Regions from separate parts of the Homo sapiens genome. Here region 1 is linked to region 2. Evidence: fine-mapped expression QTL. A gene starts in region 2. The other region holds a variant in brackets. All regions are shown on one strand. Distances are between the middles of the regions.

Region 1 (4,000 bases), 26 kb before region 2:
AGATCACTTGATTGTGTATGCAGAATCTGAACTATTACAATTAAATAACTTTAACAAAATAACTGGATACAATACACAGAATCAAAGGTACTTCTATATACAAGTAACAGTTTAGAAGCACCAGGTGCATAGAGATATACCTAATAAATAACATTTAAGACTCATATACTGAAAACTACAAAACATTGCTGAGAGAAATTAAAAACAATGAAGGGATATACTATATTCATTGATTGAAACATTCAGCATTGTTACAATATTTGGTTTTGTTTTATTTTCTTTTTGTTTCTTTTCTTTTTCTCTTTTGAGATAGAGTCTTGTTCTGTCACCTAGCCTGGAGTGCAGTGGAATGATCTTGGCTCACTGCAGTCTCTGCCTCCCAAGTAGCTGGGAGTACAGGCACACACCACCATGCTCAGCTAATTTTTTTGTGTGTGTGTATATATATATATATATATATATATATATATATATATATATTTTTTTTTTTTTTTTTTTTTTTTTTTTTTTTTTGTAGAGACAGGGTTTTGCCACGTTGCCCAGGCTGGTCTCGAATTCCTGGGCTCAAGCGACCCACCCACTTCAGCCTCCCAAAGTGCTGGAATTACAGGCATGAGCCACCACACCTGGCCTTATTTTCTTTTATACTCCCAATACCTACCTTGGTGCCTTGCAAATAGGAGGGAATCTCAAAACGATTATAGATTTACAGGAAGTTGGAAAAATAGTAGAAAGGTCCCGTTTTCCCCAATGATAACATCTTATATAACTCTAGTACAATATTAAAACCAAGAAATTGACATTGCTACAATCCACAAACCTTATTCAGATTTTGCCAGTTTTGCACACATGTGTGTGTGTAGTTCTGTGCAATCTTACCATGTGTAAATTTGTATAACCACTGCCATGCTCAAGATACAGAACTGTTTCATCACCACAAAGATCCTTCTTGCTATCTCTTTGTAGTCTACTCCCTTTGCCCTCCATCTCACCCCTAGCAACCACTAATCTATTATCCATCTCTATAGTTTTATCAATGTGAATAAGTGAATGAGAAAATAGTGATATCATTTTGCATTGAAGTTTTGTTAAAGAGGTATCAAAGAGGAAAGCTTCTTGGTAAAGCCTTAAAGAATGGCTCTCTAGGTGCTATCTTATTTCTAGTCATCAATTTTGCCTCTTAAAAGCTTGAGTTTGGCTGGATGCCATGGCTCACACCTGTAATTCTAGCACTTTGGGAGGCCAAGATGGGTGGATCGCTTGAGCCCAAGAATTTGAGACCAGCCTGGGCAACACAGCAAAACTCCATCTCTACAAAAATAAAAATAAAAAAATTAGCTGGGTGTGGTGGCGCACACCTGTAGTCCTAGCTGCCTGGGAGGCTGAGGTGGGAGGATCACTTGAGTCCAGAAGGCAGAGGTTGCAGTAAGCTGAGGTCGTGCCACTGCACTCCAGCCTAGGTGACAGAGTGAGACCCTGTCTCAACAACAAAAAACCTTGTGCTTAATTTTTATCATATTGCCCCTGACGTTTAGATTCAAGAGGTCCAAATTTTGCTAATCAGAGTTAGACTGATGATCCATGATACCAATATATTAATTTGGGCCAATATGTTGACCAGTTAGTGCCTGTCTTCCCCCA[A/G]AGGAAACCAAATTATAAGAGACTAAATTATTCTCAAGGCTGCTAGATGAGCATTATATCAAAGTAAAAGGGTATCATTAGCCATTTCTAGCATGGAGAGGTAGCAATCATGACTGCACTCTCTATAGATTCCTGTGCATAGCACCTAGTTTCCTTAAATGAGTTTTAAGATAATTGGGCAGGTTAGTTACTTGAGTGTCTTCCAAGTTTTTCAGATGTGTTACTCTATAATGGCTTCATACAGGTTATGATACTTTTTAATTTTAACCTCAGATTGGTCTTTTCCTTGTCACCAAATGCTGGGGACACCCTATTGTAGTCACCATTGTATGCCAACTACATTTGGGGCTCTAAAGCTCTAAGATTAGGCCGGGCACAGTGGCTCACGCCTGTAATCCCAGCACTTTGGGAGGGCGAGGTCAGGAGTTCAAGACCAGCCTGGCCAACATGGTGAAACCCCGTCTCTTCCAAAAACACAAAAATTAGCCGAGTGTGGTGGCGGGCACCTATAATCCCAGCTACTCGGGAGGTTGTGGCAGGAGAACCGCTTGAACCTGGGAGGCAGAAGTTGCAGTGAGCCGAGATTGCACCATTACACTCCAGCCTAGGCAACAAGAGCAAGATGCTGTCTCAAAAAATAAAAATAAAAAGCTGTAAGATTTTATAACTTCATGAGGCAGATCCTTCAGCTCTGCCGGCATTTGGGCCTTAACCTGAAATCAGTACTAAGAAGTCAAGATCAGGAGAAAGGAGTATCTTAATTATGGGCATTTCTTTGGTATAGTCTTGGATTCTTTATTCCTAGGTAGATTTCGGGCAGACAACTTGAACAAGCTGAAGAACCTATGCAGCAAGACAATCGGAGAGAAAATGAAGGTAAGAGAACTGAATAACAAACAGCCATGAGAACTTGAGCGGAGATATTTGATCTTGCTCTTAGCTAATGTTCACAGAAGTTCTAACTCAGTGTTTAAGTCTACAAGATGTTCAATTTCTTACCAAAGGGGAAAATATTATTTTAAAAAGATAGGGAGGCAGGGAACTTGGAGGCATTTTCATATACTTTACCACAAGTCCATCTTCTGTGTTCAGGTAAGATTCTTTGTTGTCTAGCTGTTTGTTGTCTATTCTGTTCTTATATTAGAAATATAAATTCCACCAGTCATCTTTTTTATGGCAGATTTCAGATTTGTCGTCTCAGCGTAGTTATGCTCCATAATGAAAACTACAGATTCAGAGTTCAAATCTTGCTACGTTATGTGTCTTTTAGGCAAGTTAATGCCTCAGCCTCAGTTTTCTCATTTATAAAATGACAATACTAACACTCACCTACAGAATGGAATTGTTAGAACTTTTTTTTTTTAATTTAAACGCCAAGCAATGGTTATGGATAGAACTAAATTTCTTTTAAATGTAGAAAATTTGGCACAGTGTCTAGAACATGTAGTTGTTCAGCAATTGTGAGTTATAATGAATGGCAAGTAATGTTACTGGCCTTCATCCAAAAAAAAAATCCTTCCTATGCCTGAAAAATACTATGTTTCAGCTCAGCTTTTGCTTTGGTATCCAGAATAGTTCATGTTTTTAACCTTCCTTCAAAAATACCTGTTTAGCCCCTTAATCATATTACATTACATATTATAGCTGGGTACAGTAGCTCACGCCTATAATCCCAGCACTTTGGGAGCCAAAGTGGGCAAATTGCTTGAGCTCAGGAGTTCAAGACTAGTCTGCACAACATGGTGAAACCCCATCTCTACAAAAATAAAATGAAACAAAAAAATTAGCCAGACGTGGCGGCCTGTGCCTGTAGTTCCAGCTACTCAGGAGGCTGAGGTGGGAGGATCACTTGAGGCCAGGAGTCAAAAGTTGCAGTGAGCCAAGATTGCGCTACTGAGCTCCATCCAGCCTGGGTTTCCAGTGAAACCCTGTCTCCAAAATAAATAAATTAATTAATTAAATGCACTTTACAATCTAGATAACTTTTACATTGTAAACCTCAAAACTAAACAACAACAACAAAAAATTATAGAACTTTGGAACTGCACCAGTAAAGAGCATAAAAAGATGACCTCGGGATTCTAGCACCTTACACTTAACTTCATGGCAGTCGGCATCTTTCTCTTTGACAATATTTTGTTACACTTTCAGCGTGTAACACTTTTAGCTGTGGAAAGTGATATTGATAATCATCCAGTTTCTTTCTGTGGGACTTAGTCATTCGCATACTAGAGGCCCCATAATTATGTTAATTCCCATGCATACTCCTCCCTGGGTGTTCTTTGGGACCTATGTACAGTCAGTGCCAGCTGGGTATTTTTTGAAGCAAGAAGATGGGATTGTGAGTGTTGTCATTCAC
Region 2 (4,521 bases):
TTCACCCATGCGACCCTGTTGTGTTGAAAGCCAGGGCCATGCCTTATCCAGGGGGTCCTCAGGAAGCAACCTGAGTAAGGAAATCCCACCAGAGCTAAAGGACAGCCGCAAGGCTAGCCAAGCAGGTTTCCTTCCTTCCCAGAGCCTCCACTGTGAAGTGGGAGGTTTGGACTAGAAGAACAATAAATTCTCTTTTAACAGACCCCAAGCCCTTGCTGCCCCTTGATAGCACCTAAAAGCTATGCAGAAGGGAGGCCTAAATGTCCCTTACACACAGGAGGGAGGTCCATAGGTTCCTTACAACTGGAAAGCTCCATGAAGCAGGCAGCCCTTCCCTGGGGATCAGGGAGGCCTCCACCAGGGCAACCCCTCCCTCATTTGAGACTCTCAGTGATGCATATGAAACTTGGAAATTTCCCTCCTGCTTTTGGGAGTTGGAAGTATCTGAGGAAGTGATGGGGAGAGAGCTCTGTCCTGTGCCCCCGGAGGGAGGACTGGGGAGGATTAAGGACTATTTGCCAAATGTGCTTGGGGATGAAGGAAAGGGTTCCTTGGATCCCCCAACCTATCTGCCTTTGGGTGGAAAGGCCACCCACCTGGAAGGGGCTTCTGAGCTCATGCCTTCCCTGGCAACCCCTGCCTCAAGGTGCAAGGCCCCAGAACCACCTTCCGTGATCCAGAGCCAGGGCTACTCTTTCCTCCCACCCAGAAAGCTTATTTTAGCAACAAAGGGAGCGAGATGAATGGAGAGTTGCAGCTTCTCCACGGGTTGGCTTGGGCCTTCACCAGAAATGAGAGTCTCATTACCCAACCCCAATTCAAAGGATAATTAACAGATGGTATAATTTCCAAGCATTCTCTGCACCACATGGCTATTAGGTGAAGAACAAAATGCCCACGCAGCCCCTAGATCCTTCCAAACTCCAGAGTCTGAGGAAGTCTAGAGAGGCAGAGCCCTGCGGAGGCGTGTAACCCACGCCTCCATCTCCAGAGCTGCCCTTGGCCTTGCTCAGAGGAAGAAAGCTCCTGTTTGGTCAAAGGGGAGGGCATTTCCTTGAGCCATGGGTCCTCCTCCTACTTCTATCCATCCTGCCAGGAGCACAGTCTAACCCTAATCTTTCTTGCTGTACCCAAGGCCCATCTCCTTTCCTGTTTCCCCAGGGGAAAAGAGAAAAGCTGATTTCTCATCCTTGGCCTCACTGTGTGGTCACACAGACACTCCTTGGGCCTGGGGCTGGGGGATCCTCTGCTGTGACCCAGTGAGAGTGGCACCACTGTGACCGGGGGCAGTGGTAGAAGGGAGCACCTGATCCAGTGCTTTTCAGATGGGTTCCTCCAGACCCTCAAGTTGCACAGAGCAGCCCAGGGATTTCTTGGTTGGGGGAGTGGTGGAGAGGGGCAAGGCCCTGACCCCCTCACTTCAACCCAGCAGCACTACTCATCTGTTCTATATTCTGGCCTTCCACTTCAGATTTCTTTTGAAGAAAAGAATTCTACTGCTAAATAAACATTTGAGAACCATTCACCTTATTCAATCCCCTCATTTTACAAAAAGGGACATTGAGGCACAGAATTTGAGCAAGGTCACATAGCTGTGGTGTTGGAGGCTGGGACCCAGGCCCAGGCATCCCCCCAGGCCAGGGCATCCCCCCAGGGACTACCTGACTGGGCCCCTGGCTGCTCCAGGATGTAGGGAAGCCTTTTCTGGGTCGCCTGCACGGCTCCTGCCTGGCTCTCCGTGTGGTCCAGCTTCATGTCTGGTCCTCTTGGAGAACCCCTGGAATCCTGCACACCCTCTCAAATGAAGCTGCCTTGGAGAGGGTCAGGAGCCCGGGTACCAGGTAGGCCTCCTCGCTGGTCACAAAACTGTGGCGGAAGGAGGGGGTAGCCGCAGGACATGGACAGGGAGGCAGGAGGGGATGAGAGGCCGCCTCTCTAGACAGGACCTCAGGGGGCAGTGTAAGCCCCTTGTCTAGAATCCAGGAAGCCTGTGTTAAAGCTAGGCTCCACCGCAGCCGGCCTCCGAATCTGGTGACAGTGTGTTTGCACCACCTGGCTTCCACCCACTCTGACCCTTCTAATTTACTTCCCTGGAAAAGCCCAAGTGGTGTCCAACATGAGGCTGGGGTCATTCTTCCAACAGCCCGACCCCAAGGGGCATGCTGGTCAGACAACAGCCTCGCTGGTGGGGTGGAGGGGACGGTAGGGAGCGAGTGGGCCCGGTGACTCATTGTGGGTGCTTCTCTGGGATTTTGGAGGCTTTGTTGTGTTGCTCAGGGCCCTTTTAACTCTGTCTGACCTATGGGAGGGGACAGCAACGAGGGCTTTTATGACTGGAATGAACTGGAAACTTGGCCTCTGAGAGCCCTTAAAATGTTTTGGAAACCTCTAGGCATACTTAGGGTACTTCCACCATGATTATCATCGGCTGTGTGGCTTCCGATCGCTAATTCGCACCGGGCATCTGGCGAGGCCGGCCTGGGGAAATTGGGATGGAGGGTCCTGCTGGAGGGAATCCTGGCGCTTTGGGCGGAGGAGTGCTCTGGGTGGGGCCCACCTCCTCCAGCGCGGCCGGCGTTGCCGCTTTAAGGCGGCCGCGGCGCGAGCAGGTCTATGGTAATGAGCCGCCGCCGCGACTCTGCAGAGCTCGCCCGCCCGCCGGGGAGGCGAGGGAGCGCGGGGCTGGGCCCGGGGCCGCGGCGACAGGCAGCAGCCGCGGCGGGGACGCGGGGCGCGAGCGGGCGGCGCGGGACCGTCGGGGGCCGCCGGGGCCGGGCCGGGGTCGGGGCGCACGGCTACGCGGGCGCAGGTGGGCGATCCCATAGGGGCGGAGGGGGCACCCCGGCTCCGGAACCCGGGGCCCGGCAAGGCCAGGGGCGCCGCGGGGCCCCCGGGCGCAGGTGGTGAGTGCCCGGAGCGCAGGTGGAGGCGCGGCGGCAGCCCGCGGTGCTCAGGGTGACCCGGGAGCGGGTCTGGCTCAGGGGGCAGTGGGAGCCCGGGCTCGTCGGAGGGTGCAGCGCGGGGTCCCGCCGAGCCATCCAGACGCAGGCCCCGCGGGGCGCACGGGAGGCCCCCGGGGACTGGCGCCCTGGCCCGGGCATGAGGCGCGGCGGGGCCGGCAGGAGCCGGAGGAGGAGCCGCCGCCGCCGTTGACCCGGCCGCCGGCCGGGAGCTGGGAGAGATGCGGAGCCCGGCCACCGGCGTCCCCCTCCCAACGCCGCCGCCGCCGCTGCTGCTGCTGTTGCTGCTGCTGCTGCCGCCGCCACTATTGGGAGACCAAGTGGGGCCCTGTCGTTCCTTGGGGTCCAGGGGACGAGGCTCTTCGGGGGCCTGCGCCCCCATGGGCTGGCTCTGTCCATCCTCAGCGTCGAACCTCTGGCTCTACACCAGCCGCTGCAGGGATGCGGGCACTGAGCTGACTGGCCACCTGGTACCCCACCACGATGGCCTGAGGGTTTGGTGTCCAGAATCCGAGGCCCATATTCCCCTACCACCAGCTCCTGAAGGCTGCCCCTGGAGCTGTCGCCTCCTGGGCATTGGAGGCCACCTTTCCCCACAGGGCAAGCTCACACTGCCCGAGGAGCACCCGTGCTTAAAGGCTCCACGGCTCAGATGCCAGTCCTGCAAGCTGGCACAGGCCCCCGGGCTCAGGGCAGGGGAAAGGTCACCAGAAGAGTCCCTGGGTGGGCGTCGGAAAAGGAATGTAAATACAGCCCCCCAGTTCCAGCCCCCCAGCTACCAGGCCACAGTGCCGGAGAACCAGCCAGCAGGCACCCCTGTTGCATCCCTGAGGGCCATCGACCCGGACGAGGGTGAGGCAGGTCGACTGGAGTACACCATGGATGCCCTCTTTGATAGCCGCTCCAACCAGTTCTTCTCCCTGGACCCAGTCACTGGTGCAGTAACCACAGCCGAGGAGCTGGATCGTGAGACCAAGAGCACCCACGTCTTCAGGGTCACGGCGCAGGACCACGGCATGCCCCGACGAAGTGCCCTGGCTACACTCACCATCTTGGTTACTGACACCAATGACCATGACCCTGTGTTCGAGCAGCAGGAGTACAAGGAGAGCCTCAGGGAGAACCTGGAGGTTGGCTATGAGGTGCTCACTGTCAGGGCCACGGATGGTGATGCCCCTCCCAATGCCAATATTCTGTACCGCCTGCTGGAGGGGTCTGGGGGCAGCCCCTCTGAAGTCTTTGAGATCGACCCTCGCTCTGGGGTGATCCGAACCCGTGGCCCTGTGGATCGGGAAGAGGTGGAATCCTACCAGCTGACGGTAGAGGCAAGTGACCAGGGTCGGGACCCGGGTCCTCGGAGTACCACAGCCGCTGTTTTCCTTTCTGTGGAGGATGACAATGATAATGCCCCCCAGTTTAGTGAGAAGCGCTATGTGGTCCAGGTGAGGGAGGATGTGACTCCAGGGGCCCCAGTACTCCGAGTCACAGCCTCGGATCGAGACAAGGGGAGCAATGCCGTGGTGCACTATAGCATCATGAGTGGCAATGCTCGGGGACAGTT

The links. PIP is the estimated chance that this variant, and not a neighbour inherited with it, causes the effect.
Region 1: its variant is the best candidate, but not a certain one, in a credible set for the expression of CELSR2 in whole blood (TOPMed, PIP 0.64).

Annotation. Positions count from the first base shown.
Region 1 is chr1:109,221,532-109,225,531 of GRCh38, forward strand. It overlaps SARS1 (seryl-tRNA synthetase 1), which reads left to right. Exons shown (of 11, transcript NM_006513.4): 2 at 2,447-2,517. Among named protein-coding and RNA genes, the nearest start is that of SARS1, 9.6 kb to the left of the region's middle. RefSeq lists an enhancer at 3,843-4,000. The variant A/G (reference allele first, on the strand shown) is at 1,642.
Region 2 is chr1:109,246,899-109,251,419 of GRCh38, forward strand. CELSR2 (cadherin EGF LAG seven-pass G-type receptor 2) reads left to right here and starts at 2,641. Exons shown (of 34, transcript NM_001408.3): 1 at 2,641-4,521. The coding sequence starts at 3,182. RefSeq lists an enhancer at 1,958-2,678 and silencers at 2,680-2,739, 2,900-2,999, 4,098-4,288.